4 linked regions of the Homo sapiens genome follow. The protein of the gene in region 1 interacts with the protein of each later gene in a pairwise test. Each region holds a gene or a part of one and is shown in the gene's direction. Other genes may lie near its edges.

Evidence for each region.
Region 2: the proteins of ANKS1A (region 1) and NHLRC2 interact in a two-hybrid assay, tested with the Homo sapiens proteins (one large-scale study listed by BioGRID and IntAct).
Region 3: the proteins of ANKS1A (region 1) and NADSYN1 interact in a two-hybrid assay, tested with the Homo sapiens proteins (one large-scale study listed by BioGRID).
Region 4: the proteins of ANKS1A (region 1) and GPRIN2 interact in a two-hybrid assay, tested with the Homo sapiens proteins (one large-scale study listed by BioGRID).

The regions. Positions count from the first base shown.
Region 1 is NC_000006.12:35,084,755-35,088,254, forward strand, and holds part of ANKS1A (ankyrin repeat and SAM domain-containing protein 1A), read left to right. Parts: intron 1-1,011; coding exon 1,012-1,182; intron 1,183-2,197; coding exon 2,198-2,295; coding exon of another isoform or gene 2,296-2,317; exon of another isoform or gene 2,318-3,500. UniProt on the Homo sapiens protein: Regulator of different signaling pathways. Regulates EPHA8 receptor tyrosine kinase signaling to control cell migration and neurite retraction.
Region 2 is NC_000010.11:113,857,661-113,861,160, forward strand, and holds part of NHLRC2 (NHL repeat-containing protein 2), read left to right. Parts: intron 1-867; coding exon 868-1,020; intron 1,021-1,026; exon of another isoform or gene 1,027-2,342; intron 2,343-3,500. UniProt on the Homo sapiens protein: Required for normal embryonic development.
Region 3 is NC_000011.10:71,498,203-71,502,316, forward strand, and holds the end of NADSYN1 (glutamine-dependent NAD(+) synthetase), read left to right. Parts: intron 1-149; coding exon 150-326; intron 327-3,099; coding exon 3,100-3,150; 3' UTR 3,151-3,614; downstream 3,615-4,114. UniProt on the Homo sapiens protein: Catalyzes the final step of the nicotinamide adenine dinucleotide (NAD) de novo synthesis pathway, the ATP-dependent amidation of deamido-NAD using L-glutamine as a nitrogen source.
Region 4 is NC_000010.11:46,541,236-46,543,947, reverse strand, and holds the end of GPRIN2 (G protein-regulated inducer of neurite outgrowth 2), read left to right. Parts: 3' UTR 1-2,212; downstream 2,213-2,712.

The DNA.
Region 1 (3,500 bases):
AGTGGTGCCCTCTTTGGCAGATTTTCTTCCCTCAAATTCCTGCTGAGGCTCGGCTCTGGATGCCACTGGGCCGAGGAGAGTTCATTCTCACACAGCTGCCCACAGGGAGCAGACCAGAACTGACAGCCCACAGGCGGGGGTTCCCTCTAACCTGCAACAAAGCATGAGAGTGGCCCCAGGCTGCTTCCTCACCCCGGGAGGAAGTCAGAGGGGTCCAGGTCTCTGCCGCCCTCAGGGATAGCAGCTGCTTCCAGAATCTCTGTGGCTCCTGGAATACAGGCAGCTCTGGGCATCCCCACACTCCTGGGACCTCATCCACCCCAGTCCTCTGTTTGCTCTGGGCCAGTGAAGGTTAGGAGGAACCAGGCTTTGCTGCTTGCTGGCTGTGTGAGCTTGGAAACATCGCATCTGCCTGCTTCCTCATCTGTCTGGAGGGGATATAATGTGGCCCACCTCAGGGGCCACTGTGAGATGGATGAGGTGGTCCACACAGCACAGTCAGTGGCATTTACCTGTTGCTGACTTTTCCCACATACACTCAGTTCTGCTGTAACGCCACACATACGCTCCTAACAATCACTGTGCTGTGTAAAATCACACAAGGAAAACCACAGGGTTTATGGGGAAATGGAGTTAGGGGCACAGCACTCACAGACTTTGTCGGTGACACATTAAAAATAAAAGCACTAGCACCACTTACATTAAATGGTAAGAAATACCCAAGTACTGCTGCAGGCACGGCACCCTGCCTTGGAAAAGACCTGCCGTAGGCTTACAGCAGTGTGCACCTGCCCTCCCCGCAGCCCAGCTCCCGGCCACATCCTGTGTAGAGCGGGAAGAACAACAGAGACCTAGGAAGAGTAAAGGAGGGAAAGGAGGGAAGAGTGGAAGGAGGTAGGAGCGCTCCCGGGTAGACTTAGAGGGGGACACATGGTCCCTGCGAGGAAGGGCATATCCAGTGTGAAGCGGCTCCTGAACCAGGTGCTTAAGTGGTGATCTGCTTCCTCCCAGAACCTGACCTACGAGATCATCCTGACGCTGGGGCAGGCCTTCGAAGTGGCCTATCAGTTGGCCCTGCAGGCCCAGAAGTCCAGGGCGACGGGCGCCTCTGCAGCTGAGATGATTGAAACAAAATCTTCCAAACCGGTGCCTAAGCCTCGGGTCGGCGTGAGGAAATCCGCAGTACGTGGGCCCCACTGGCCAAGATCCCCCTCTCCCTGGCCCCAGGGATTCAAGGGCTCAGGGTGGTCAGCGTGAGGAGGGTCTTCTGGCACTTCCAGAAAGCTGGCCCTCCAGGGAAATGACCCTCTTAATTGTCCCCCAACCCTGCCAGGTCTCGCCCCTGGAAAGGCAGCAGCTCCTCTGGCCTGGGCGGGCCTCTCATGCTCCTGTTTCCCTCCCTCGCTGGGCTCCCCCAAGGGCAAGGCCGTCAAGGGGCTGCAGAGAGCGGCCTGCAGGCAGCCCCCAGTAACTGCGCCATCCCTGTGTCTGTGTCTGCTTTGCTCTGCACCCCAGGTGCCGCTGCCCCCCGATAGTCGCTGTTGTTACTGTCACACCTGCACCACCCACCGTCCTTCCTACCTACCGCTGCCATCTGTTAGTCCTGGAGTCAAGGTCTTTACGCCTCCTGCTGTCTTGTGTGTCAGTCTCCCCGAAGTGACCGTGAGCGCTCTTAGCCTCTGGCGGCCTCTCCCTCTGCCTGTGTGACATTCTTTCCCCTCTTCCTGAGATGCCCTCTGCCTGTTCTGTGTGTGCTTCAGCCCTCTCTGTTTTTCTGTTGTGTGTCCTCTCTCCAGAGGTCTGGGGTGACTGCTGTGGTCTTGCCTTGGGGTGAGCTCTCTGGGCCTACCAGAGAGACCCGAGGCTGGACATTTGCAAGCCCCATATCCCCTTCCTGCCCAGTGTGAGTGGGTCTGGGGCTTAGAGCAGGAGGCCCGCCTAGGACAGGGGTCCTTTAACTGAGCAATCCCAAGAAATCCCGGAGAGAAGCTGTGCCTGGAGGTGGCCCTCCCCAAGATGCTCCAGGAGGGTGTCCCTCCTCCGCCTGCCCCCAGGGGCCTGCTCTTTGGCCGAGGAGAATAAGGGCTGCCCCTCCCAGCACAGGGGCCACAGCCTGGCCTGGGGGTGGGAGGGGCCTGCTGCCTCCAGCCCTGGCACAGAGCTCCCTCTGACTCTTGACTGCTTCCTTGTTTGGCAGCTGGAACCACCTGATATGGACCAAGATGCCCAATCCCATGCCAGTGTCTCCTGGGTTGTGGACCCCAAACCAGACTCTAAGCGGAGCCTCAGCACCAAGTATGAGACCACTATCTTCTAAAACAACCCACTCCCTGTCTCCACTAGTCTCACTGTGCCTTTGCCATCCGATCTTTCTGCTGTCCTCAACTCTCTCCTTCCAGCTGCTGATGCCAAGGCCCCACCTGCACTGGGACCTGCTCCTCTTGGGCGGGCGGCAGCGTAGACGCTGTACACTTGCAGCTCTCGCACCTACCACCACCGAACACTGTGAATTCTCCCCCTTGGGCTGAGGACAGCTTGAGGGGGTGAGTTGCCTTTGAGGTGGGCATCAAGAGGGCTCAGGGGTTCTGTTGCACCCTGGAAGCCTCCACGGGCAGGCACTGTGAACCCCGACGGGCAGGGCAGTCTCCAGCAGGATCCCAACGGCACTGATAGCTCCCCAGGGTTGGGCTGGGCTCTGTGTGGCTCCCTCCTCCTGTCTGCTGTACTGAGCCACAGCTGGGCACCGTTGCCAAGAGCTAGCTGACTGTTCTCACCTCTCCTGAACCAACCAACCACTGTGACCACCCAGTGCCAGAGTCCCCAGCACTCTGCTCACAGCCGGCCTGCAGCCCCACCCCACTGTCCTCCGCTACTCCGAGGTGCTGGCCTCACTCTCATGGCTAGGCCCTTGTGAGACCTTGAGCTCAGTGATGTGGCTGGACCAGGGACAGACTGCTTTCTGTGAGGGCCCAAGATATGCGCCAGGCCCTTGGGTCCGTGCTGACTGCCCCACTTGGGGCTCTGGGTATCTGAACACTCACAGGCTGGCTCACACAGCAGGTGTCTCAGTCCTGATGGGCCTTCCCCTCCAAGGAGGTGGGTGGCATGTGTGTGGACAGCCCCTCTATCTTCGCCATGGAGTCTCAAGGCCTGGCAGCCTTGGGCCTGGCTCTGGAGTCTAGCTCACTGAGGAGGAAGGCCTTCCGTAGAACCAACGAGGAGGCGGCCTGTGCCCTGCACACACGGCGCACCTTCTTCCCTCACAGAACAGAGCTGCTGGAGGACAGGGACCTGGACCAAGTGGCCTCCATTGTCCTCTGGGAGCTTTCTGACACTCTCCACGGTGGGGGATCACAGATAGACAGCGCCGTCCAGCATGCCCCTGACCACCTCCCTCAGCCTCCTGACTCCTCCGAAAGGAGAGGCCGTCCCATCGCAGCAGCTCAGAAGCTGGGATGGTGGAGCTGAGTCTTTGAAGAGGCACCCCATTCTCCAGTGTG
Region 2 (3,500 bases), on another chromosome or scaffold:
AGGGATGCTGTACTTTATTATTAGTTAACAAAATCTTTCTTCATAGTACAGAGCTTTCTTTTTTTGGAGGAAAGGGAACACGTTCTTCATTAATATTAATGTTACCTCAATGAAATCTGTGACAATAATAAGTGTATTTTGCTTAACTTTACATTTAGCATATTTTATTTTGTATTTACGGTCTCATCCAAATCCAGAATATTTCAGTTTCTTCTCCTTTAGGAAACTGTTTTAGGCATTTTGTATGTTTATCCTTACACACATTTCACTCCTTTTTGATGTTTAGTTATATCTTACTATTCTTAAGCTTGACCTTTATTCTCAGTAGCCCATTTGTATCTAATTGTTTATGTAATTAGGTTCATTTACTATTTGATATTTCTTCCTTTTTTTTTTTTTTTGCCTAAGTGTGTTGCCTTTACTCCTTTTCACAGACTGTTACCCTATTTCTGAAAGAATTTAGTAGCTTTTTCTTGCTTTATTTGCAGATGGCATCATAATAGCAGCTTTCCCATCCTCTACTCCTCCTGCTCCCCCACCCGTACCCCCATCCCTTCCTTTTCTTTCTTCCCTTTTTGGGCTTTTAATCTCTGCTAATTTGCCTTTTTGGTATGTTCTTCCAAACCCAAATACCTGTTTAGTTACAGTCATAAAGATATATCTTTTATTTCTTTTGTTGATAGAAAATGATGGTTCATAGTAAACAACTATAAATACATGCAACTGCCACAGCCTTTATATGGTGCTACTCTCTCAAAGTGTTTATTTGCATTAGTCTTAAAAAAAAAGGTCACATTTTAATGGAAAGTTTTAGGTAAATTTTATCTTTCTCTTTAATCATTGTAATTTATTTTATGTAAATTTCAGGATTAGAATGGCTGAACACAGAAGAACCTATTTCTGTCTACAAGGATCTATGTGGAAAAATAGTCGTCCTTGATTTCTTCACCTACTGCTGCATAAACTGTATTCACCTATTGCCTGATCTCCATGCATTAGAACACACATACTCTGATAAAGGTATCTGCTCTTTAATTAGTTTCTAACAGACTGTCCTGGCATAGTCACTGGAAGAGTGGCTGACTCATTAGCTCATAGGAGAATGAACATTTGGCAAGGCTTCAGGGATTCTAAAAGTAATCTCTTATCTATGAATTAAAGACTTCATGTACCTTTTCATAAAGGATTAAGCTTAGTGATAGTGGTTTGCCTATCTAAAGAACCAGCATTTAGTATATGGTTTTTCTCTGCGGATAGGGGCATAATTTGCTATTTTTCATGATCAGATATTTTAAAAGGTCTTTTTGTATGTTGAGGCTGACTTAAATTTGTTCTATTAAAAAAATAAAATATCTGACCTTAATTTTACACTGTTTTCACTGTGATACAAAGGTTTAAAGTTCTTATTAGGAAATGTGACTAGGCTTTCATTAATATTGAATGACATGAACTGCAGTGGAATGCAAAATATAACAGATACTCTTTCTTTGACCCTGCTTCATTAAAAAATGATTTATTACAGCTAATGTTTTTCAAAGCACACTAGGAAATCCATTTTTATGGTATTACAAATTCTAAAGATGTAGGAGATTATACTTATTGGCTTTAGAAGTTTGAAAAATTAATCAAATTTTTTTTGTCTACTTTCTAAAAAAAGAACATGGGAGTAAATGAAATTAATTAAAAGTATCATTTAATTAGGTTCAAGTGAATTGAAGCACTAATCTTGGAGTGGATAAAAAAAAGAGATAGGGTCACCGATCCTGTGTTAGTAAAGATGAGAATAGACTATATACGTGTGAAAGTAAAGGATATTCTGAAACTTAACTTTAAAGGGGAAGTGATAGAGAAATCTTCAGTGCAACTGAAACTTCAGATGCTTTTGAATTGTAATACATTGTATGTTAAAATTACCAGTCAAATGATTTATCAAGAACTCAAATATTTCTACTAGCTAAATCCTGTTATTAAAAATTTATCTGTATGGATTTAAGAAATATGGATATCTTATCTCCTAGGTTTTAGATGCCAGTGTTTCTTGTTCAAGACATCACGTTTATTGAACATGTTGTTATGTGCAGGGTACTCTGCTAACTGCTGAGGAAATATGTAACAAAATTGAATAAAAAACATTATGGAACCTAAGGAAAGGAATAAGTCACTTTGCCTAGAAACATTGGAAAAGATTTCTCAGAGAAGGAGACAATTGAGCTAGAACTTGAAAAATAAGCAGGAGTGCAGCTGAAAATGAAAGTGGGGCAGAAGGGACACTCCTGGCTGAGGAAGCTTCAGGTAAACAAGCATGGAATCACAGAGGAGTAGGATTCTTGCTCCAAGAACAGGTAAATAATTTAGTGTGGCAAGATTGTAAGAGTTCATGGTAAAAGTAAAAGGAGACAAAGGTAGGTTAGGTTAGGAGCACATTGTGAAATGCATTGTATAGCGTTCTTAATAGTTTAGACTTTTCCTTCTGTGAGGATACAGAGATTGAAGTTTGTTTTTGATTTGTTTTTTTAGTAGACGGATGACATTTGTGTTTTAGAATGGCATTACACATGGAGTTAAGAATCTCAAAGTTTACCAGTTCCATACCTAAGATCACCCCTGAAAGACTATTTGGTGAACTCATGGTTAACCCCATACCTTAAGCAGATTCAGTGACTTCCTAGAATGGATCCTTATAATCTCCTACTAGTTTACTGGAAACATTGTTTTTATAGCACATTGTGACAAAAAAATTAAAAATATTTTTATATACAAATATGCTTCTGAAAAGCAAAATACTTTGTAAGTGGAGCAAGAATTCACTGTCAGTTTCAACAAAGAATCACAAAGCATACACAAAGAACAGGGAAGTACAGCCCATTCAAGAACAGGGAAGTACAGCCCATTCAAAGGAAAAAAATAAACCGATAGAAATTGTCTCTAAAAAATACCTGATACATATCTATGAGACAAAGACTTTAAAACACTGTCTTAAAGATGCCCAAATAACTAAAGGGAAATATGGAAAAAGTTTTAAAAAAACAATGTATGAAGAAAATGGAAATACAATAAAGAGAAAACCTAAATAGAAGCTAGAAAGAAATTCTGGAACTGAAAAGTGGACTAACAGTGAGGAGAAACTCACTACAGAGGCTCCTTGACTTATAGTGCAGCTGATAAACCCATGGTAAGTTGAAAATATCATGAAGTTGAGAAAGTATGTTTAATGCTTGGTAGCACAGCAGATGGTCCCTGACTTATGATGATTCGACTTAAAATATTTTGACTTGATGGTGGAAAGGTGATACTCAGTAGAAATCATAACTTTCTAAATCCTAAGGAGCTCTTTGACTTACAGTGAATTATGTCCAGATAAACTCATCGTAAAGTTGAAAAATTATAAGTCATACCCTCATAGGTCAGGGGCCATGTAGAGACTCGAAGACAGATTTGAGTAGGCAGAAAGAAGAATCAGTGAACCTGAAGATAAGGCAATGGAAATGATTAAGGAACAA
Region 3 (4,114 bases), on another chromosome or scaffold:
CACGGGCATCCCCCACACCTGCCATCGTGGAAGGTCCTGTGCGGGGAGTAACCCATTAGTCATTTGCTTGTATGATCCAGCATGGGAATTCCGGCCTGGGGTCTCTCCAGTTTTGGTAACATGAAGCTCGTGTGTTGCACGCCCACCAGGTCGCTGACAAAGTGAAGCGGTTTTTCTCCAAGTACTCCATGAACAGACACAAGATGACCACGCTCACACCCGCGTACCACGCCGAGAACTACAGCCCTGAGGACAACAGGTTTGATCTGCGACCATTTCTGTACAACACAAGCTGGCCTTGGCAGTTTCGGTGCATAGAAAATCAGGTAAATCCAGCAGAAATGTTTCTCTCTCCATGTTTCATGTCTGTAGAAGAAACGTGAGGTTATTTCCATGAAGGATTGAAAAACTTTCTTATATACACAGTAACTTTTTTACTGTCCTCCTTTCTGCAAAGGGACAAGTATGTTTAAAGCGTTTTTTAAATTTACTTTTTTCGTGTTGACAAATAAAAATTCTATATATTGATGGTGTCCAACATGACATTTCGATATGTGTGTCACAGTGGAATGGCTAAGTCAAGCTATTTCACATGTGCGTGCCTTACCCCACACGCCTATTATTTGTGTGTGGTAAGAGCACTTAAAATCTACTCTCTTAGCAATTTTCCTATATTAACTACAGTCACCATGTCATGCACTGGAGCTGTTGAACTTACTTCTTTTGTGGCCTTTGACCAACAATCTCCCCACCCACCAGCCCCTGGTAGCCACCGTCGCACTCTCTGCTTCCACAAGATCACCTTTTCAAGATTCCACAGACGAATCAGACCATGCGGTATTTGTCTTTCTCTGCCTGGCTTATTTCCCTTTAAGATGTTCATGTAGGTTCATCCGTATTGTTGCAAATGGCAGAATTTCCTTCTTTCCTAAGGCTGCATAGTTCTCCACTGTGTGTGCACCGCACTTTCTCTATCCACTCATCCATCGGTGCGCGCTCAGGCTGATTCCACAGCTGTGCTGTTGGGAATGGCGCTGTGGTGAACGCGGGCGTGCAGATGTCTCGTCGGCAGATGAGTTCATTTCCTGTCAGTTATACCCGGTAATGGGGTGGCTGGATCGCAGGGTAGTTCTATTTTTAATCTTTGGAGGAATCTCTGCACTGCCTTCCACAATGGCTACACTAATTGCTGAGTGTGTTTAGAGTCTGGCATGCACTCCTTTTGGCTAGGCTCTATTTGCTGGCATTACATAAACTAAAATTAGCAGCTGGACACCCCTCTATGAGTATGGTGACAATCACTGTCGTTTCTAAGTAGCCAGGGTATCCAGATGGCGTCATGGCTTCCAACCCACCCTGCTTTCCTTTTCTTTTTCTAATTAATTATTAATAGAATCAAGAAAGGACAATACAATCAATGAAAAAGGATAGGCCCTTCCCTTTTCCAAAGCCAGTTTGGGAGCCATGACAGAGCAGCTTGGCCATGGCCTCCCTAGCGCAGGGGATCATCTGACGAGAGGAGAGAGCCGGCCAGTGAGTCACTGTCAACAATGATAAATCAGAGGCCGGCTGCAATGGCTCACGCCTGCCATCCCAGCACTTTTGAGAGGATCACCTGACCCCAGGAGTTGGAGACCAGCCTGGGCAGCATGGCAAAACCCCATCTCTACAAAAAATACAACAATTAGCCAAACGTGGTGGTGCACACCTGTGGTTCCAGCTACTTGGGAGGCTGAGGAGGGAGAATCACCTGAGCCAAGGAGATGGAGGCTGCAGTGAGCTGTGATCGTGCCACTGCACTCCAGCCTAGGTGACAGAGCCAGAGCCTGTCGCAAAACAAAATTTAAATTAAAAAAATTAAAAACAGTGATAAATCCTGAGGAGTCTACACTGAGCTAGAGGACACCTAGTGTCCTTCCAGCACCTGTGAGACCATAGCACAGTGTGATCAGTGCACAACAGAGGCACACACAGGTGCTGTATGACCACAGAGTAGTAACCTTCTAATCAGGAAGATGTCTTGAACTCTTCCTTAAGGACATGAGGAAAACCCGCCTGTGCTGAGCTAGAGGCCACAAGATGCCGCTTTATACCTCATGATCGGTGACAGCATCTCTGAGCAGGTGGCCTGTAAAACGAGGGTGGATCAGTGGCAGGGGTTCTACATCTGGGACCGTTGACCCCCCGAGGAGACATTAGGCGATGACTGGAGATGATTTTGGTTATCATGACTGGGCTGGGGTCTGTGCTCCCAGCATCCCGTGGGTGGAGCCCAGGGATGCTGCTGAATGTCCTACTGTGTGCAGGATGGGCCCCTCCCAACCCCACACCCAGCAGAGAATTCTTTGTTCCACGTGTTGGTGGTGCCAAGGTTGAGGAATGCTGAACATTTGGGACTAGAAGACGTTTGGGGCTGCATGGTTGTAAGGAAGAGATACTGTATCTGGCTGATTTCCGTGGAAAGGAACTTGCTCAAAGAGTGACTTAGAGGGTGGAAGGGAGGGCAGGGGTCACAGGGTCTGGAAAGCTGGGACTCAGGCCAGGTGGCTGCTGCCCTATATCCCCTGCTGTGGCTGGACGGAGCCCACACGCCACACCCAGCCTGGGCTGGATGCCAATCTGCTCTGCCATCCCTGAGTCCCAGTGTCCCTGGGTCACCAGGCAGTGGAGTGGCCAAGCCTCGGGTGATGGGCCCTGTCATCTGGCCACCCAGGGCAGGAGAGGGAGCTGCCCCAGCTCTGGCCTCTGTAGTGGGAGGTGGGGGCTTGGCTCCCACCAAGATGTACTCAGGGGCGGGCTCCCCCAGATCAGGAAGGGGGTTCAGACACTATGCAGCCAAAAGAGTGACGCATGTGGGAGCATCAGAGACAGCTGCAGGTAAAGGTGGAGACGCTGCTGTCATCTGCAGTGACAGCTATGCGTGATCTGGACCCGCCCCTCCAGGCTTTTCCAGCACACACGCCCAGCATCTGGTGGGGACTCTGGTAATTTACTTTTTCACCTCTGGGACTTGTGACCCGCTTTTGGTGCGTGCCAGTGTTTCAACAGCCCCACAGTCCGTCTTTGCGGGGCTGTGGTGTCACAGGCCTCTCTTTCCAGGTGCTACAGCTCGAGAGGGCAGAGCCACAGTCCCTGGACGGCGTGGACTGAGGCCGGTTCCTTCCTGGAGGCCTCCTGTCCTCGGGGACCCCAGCACCTCATCATCAGCATTGCTGGAGCCAAGGGTAGGAGCCCTACACTAGGAGCCCAGGATGGGACGGCGCATCAGCCGAGAGGGAGGGAACTTTTCAGTCAAATTCCTCAAAAAGAGGCTGGAATAAAGCCTGGGCTTAAAAAGAGGCTGGAATCCAATGCACATGATTTTGACCTCCCGCCAGCGTGCGCTTCCCCGCGAAGTCTGGCATTCTCCGAAGGAAGCCGCCTGGGTAGGAGGGTTCCAACCGCCGCCCCGTGTGGCATCTTTGCTGCAGGAACAAGAACAGTAGCTCCCGGGAAGGGAGGGGTGTCATGAGCAGAAAATGAAGGAGAGAAGACCTTCTCTCCCACCCACACACACCTTCCTGTCCTGGGTTCCAGAAGGTTCTGGGGAGATGGTCCCTGCAGAGCTTTCTTCCTGGGAGTCTGGGGACCAGTCGGCCTTACTCCTGTCCTGTGGGAGAACCACCCCATCTAGGCATGGGGCCAGGTGTGGGGCAGGGGCGTGGCACTGTGGGTCCCCCTTCCTGCTGATCTTCATGCCATTCTGGGCACCTTTGTCTCTTTATGGAATGGGGTGAGGAGCGGCTTTTCTGTCCTCTCCAGAGCTCCCCTTGGTCCTGGAACCCTCTCTCCCGGGTTGCCCCAGGGAGTCTCAGCCTCCCATCCTTGCAGGGTGAAGATGAGACGAAGATGGGTGCACAGGCCAGAGCCTCCAGGGGAGTGGAGTGGGTTTGGGATCTGTGCTGCCCACCGGGTGTCCGCTCTTTCTCTCCCCCATGTCTGGCCCCTCTGCCTGGGACACTCCTGCTTCCCAGCCTCACCTAGAGCCCCACACCAAACCCAGGGCCCGGGCTGGGACACAGACCACAGCTGAGGGTGAATTTCCCAGGAGGTGCTGTCGGGATAGCAGAAAGTG
Region 4 (2,712 bases), on another chromosome or scaffold:
TGACGTGGGCCCATAGGATTGGGGATGGGTGGTGGGGTCTGACTGCCTTGTCCCAAGAGTTGGGTGAATGCCGCCTTTGCTCACTTGTGCGGTCACTCTCCAGGACTCCTGCCTGGCTTCTCCCACTCCAAGCCCGAGATAGCCCAGCAAGGAGGAAGGTCTGGCCCCAAAATACGAGCTCCCCAAGTGGATATCCTAAAATTCATCTTTCATGGCCCTACTTTATTGGGAGGGAATGTGAAAATTGTGGGAATATGTCCATTGACATCTGGGGCTCAGGGCAGGGGAGTGTGTCTAGTTTTAAGGTGTGCGCTTTTAGCCATGCAGTCATCGCCCAGTCTGTCCTGCCTGGAGCTTTTCATTTCCCTGCAGCTTTCCTGAGAAAAGACAGAGTGTGCTTTCTCTGCATCCTATGAACATGGCCCCAGGACTGCAGCACCTCTGTGTGCACACAGCCAAGGACAGTCGGGGGACCTCTGCTGGTCCTGCACCCGCTGCCCTGGGTGCTCTGTCATCCCCATCCCCCATTTCTCTTTAATCTGTTCTTCTTTTGTGGTTTCATGTTCTCTTTGTTCTGGGTTATTCAGAACCTGTCTGCCTCCCCACTGTCCATTGTACTTGTTCCTGCCTCCTCCTGCTTTGTGCCAAGGATTTACTTGCCTTCGCCTTCTGGCTCCATACAGTAGTCTCTCTTCTTGCGGTCTTGGCCATTCCCCCCACCAGGCCCCCAGCTGTGGCTGTGTCTGGGTCTTGGCATTTGTGATTTACATGGGTCTAGGCCCTTTCTCTCCACCTGTCCTTCCCCTCTTTGGACACAAACCAAAACATCTGAGCATCTCCTTACAGAGGGAGGTCTCCCTGGGGTTGCTGTGCCAAGTTTCCATTGCTTTTGCCCAGAATGAGAAATCAGTTGTCAGTGGCCCTGCTGGGTGAATGGAAGGACTTTGGTCGGGCTGGAAGGGCACCCCATCAGTCCTAACTTTTGGTGGCCCTTGTTGGTGGCTGGCTGGCTAGGCTGCTAGAGAGGTACATCAGGTGGGTGGCACCCATCTGCTGGCTTTAGGCAGGCCATCTCCTCATCCATGTTTTCAGAATCTTCTTGCATGGCTTGTAATTGGGTTGGGGTGTGGCCTGAGCCCCTGTGGGGACACACTGCACTGTCCCACCTGTATGCTTCTCTGCTGTCAGGAACTGGATTCGTGTCCAAGAGCCAAGGCTAGGGACTGGAGGAGGAGATTTCTGTCTTTGACCCCTCCATATTAGTCCATTTTCATGCTGCTATAAAGAACTGCCTGAGACTGGGTAATTTATAAAGGAAAGAGGTTTAATTGACTCACAGTTCCACGTGGCCCGGGGAGCCTCAGGAAACTTACAGGAAGCCTCAGGAAACTTACAATCATGGCAGACAGCGAAGGAGAAGCAAGGCACCTTCTTCACAAGGCAGCAGGAAGGAAAATGAATGCAGAAGGAACTACCAAACACTTATAAAACCATCAGATCTCGTGAGAACTTACTATCACAAGAACAGCATGGGGGAACCGCCCCCACGATTCCATCACCTCCACCTGATCTCTCCCTTGTCACATGGGGATTATAGGGATTACAATTCAAGATGAGATTTTGGGTGGGGACACAGCCAAAGCATATCACCCTCCCAGGCCTGAGCAAGGCCCAAGCAGGGAGCCTCTGTTGGGGCTGGAACCCTGGGAGGGGTAGAATTCTCCCCTCCACTCAGATTTGTTCCCTGTTGCTGCCCACCTGGCCCCTGCCCTGCAGCCTTCTGCCTGGCCTTCTCTCTGTTCACTTCTCATTTTTAGCAGTCAACAGACTGGGAGATGGTGGCCAAGGGTGTCATTTTGTACACAAGCTTTGTGGCTTTTGTAAGCCCAGCCTGCAACTCTTGAGGAAAACTCTTTGGTTTGATTTTTTTTCTCTTCAGAGTTGGGGGTATTCAGGGAGATGGGCAAGGGCTTCTTGTGAAGATTTCAATTCTTGAAGGGGTGGAAGCCTCCTGGGCTGGGGGAAGGGGTGGGGCAGGAACCAGCAGGGGTGTGGACACAGGGGGCTGGCACCTGGGATACCGTAGGACAGCTGGGCAGGAAGTCGGATGCTGCTTTATTGAAATTTTTGATATTTTATCATTTTTTCATTAGTTTTTATTTTAAAACACTGCTTTAAAATAATTAAAATATGATTTATCTTGGTTACCGAATCACTTAGTGTTGCCTTAAATTTTGCGCCTAGTCCCTGCCTGACCTTTCCTCCTCCTCTCCCAGGGCTTTAGGTACTCTTAGTCCCTGTGTCATAGGGACTGGGAGCAGATAGGCCCCTCCGCCCACCCCACCCCTCCCCCACCCCTCGCCCACCCCTCCCCCACCCCTCCGCGTTCCTACTCTAATCTCCTACCCTGATCTGCGGTGCAGGGCGGCGCTGGAGAGGGTGGCTTGCGGCTGATCCCGCGGTCTGGTTTGCGGCTAGGTGTGTGTCCCCGGACTGGCGTGGGTCCCGGGCCAGGCGTGGTCCTGGGCGGCGCGGCCCGTGACAGGACCCGACGCCTCCTGGTGGGCATTTCGCTCCAAGCCGGGACCCTCGGAGCCTGAGGGGATTCGGGAGGGAGGAGTCGCCGTGGGGCGGGGCGGGGCGGGGCGGGGGAGGGCTCCCAAGGCCCCGAGGACAGTCCCACCCTCACCGACAGGACCGTCCCTGCGCATC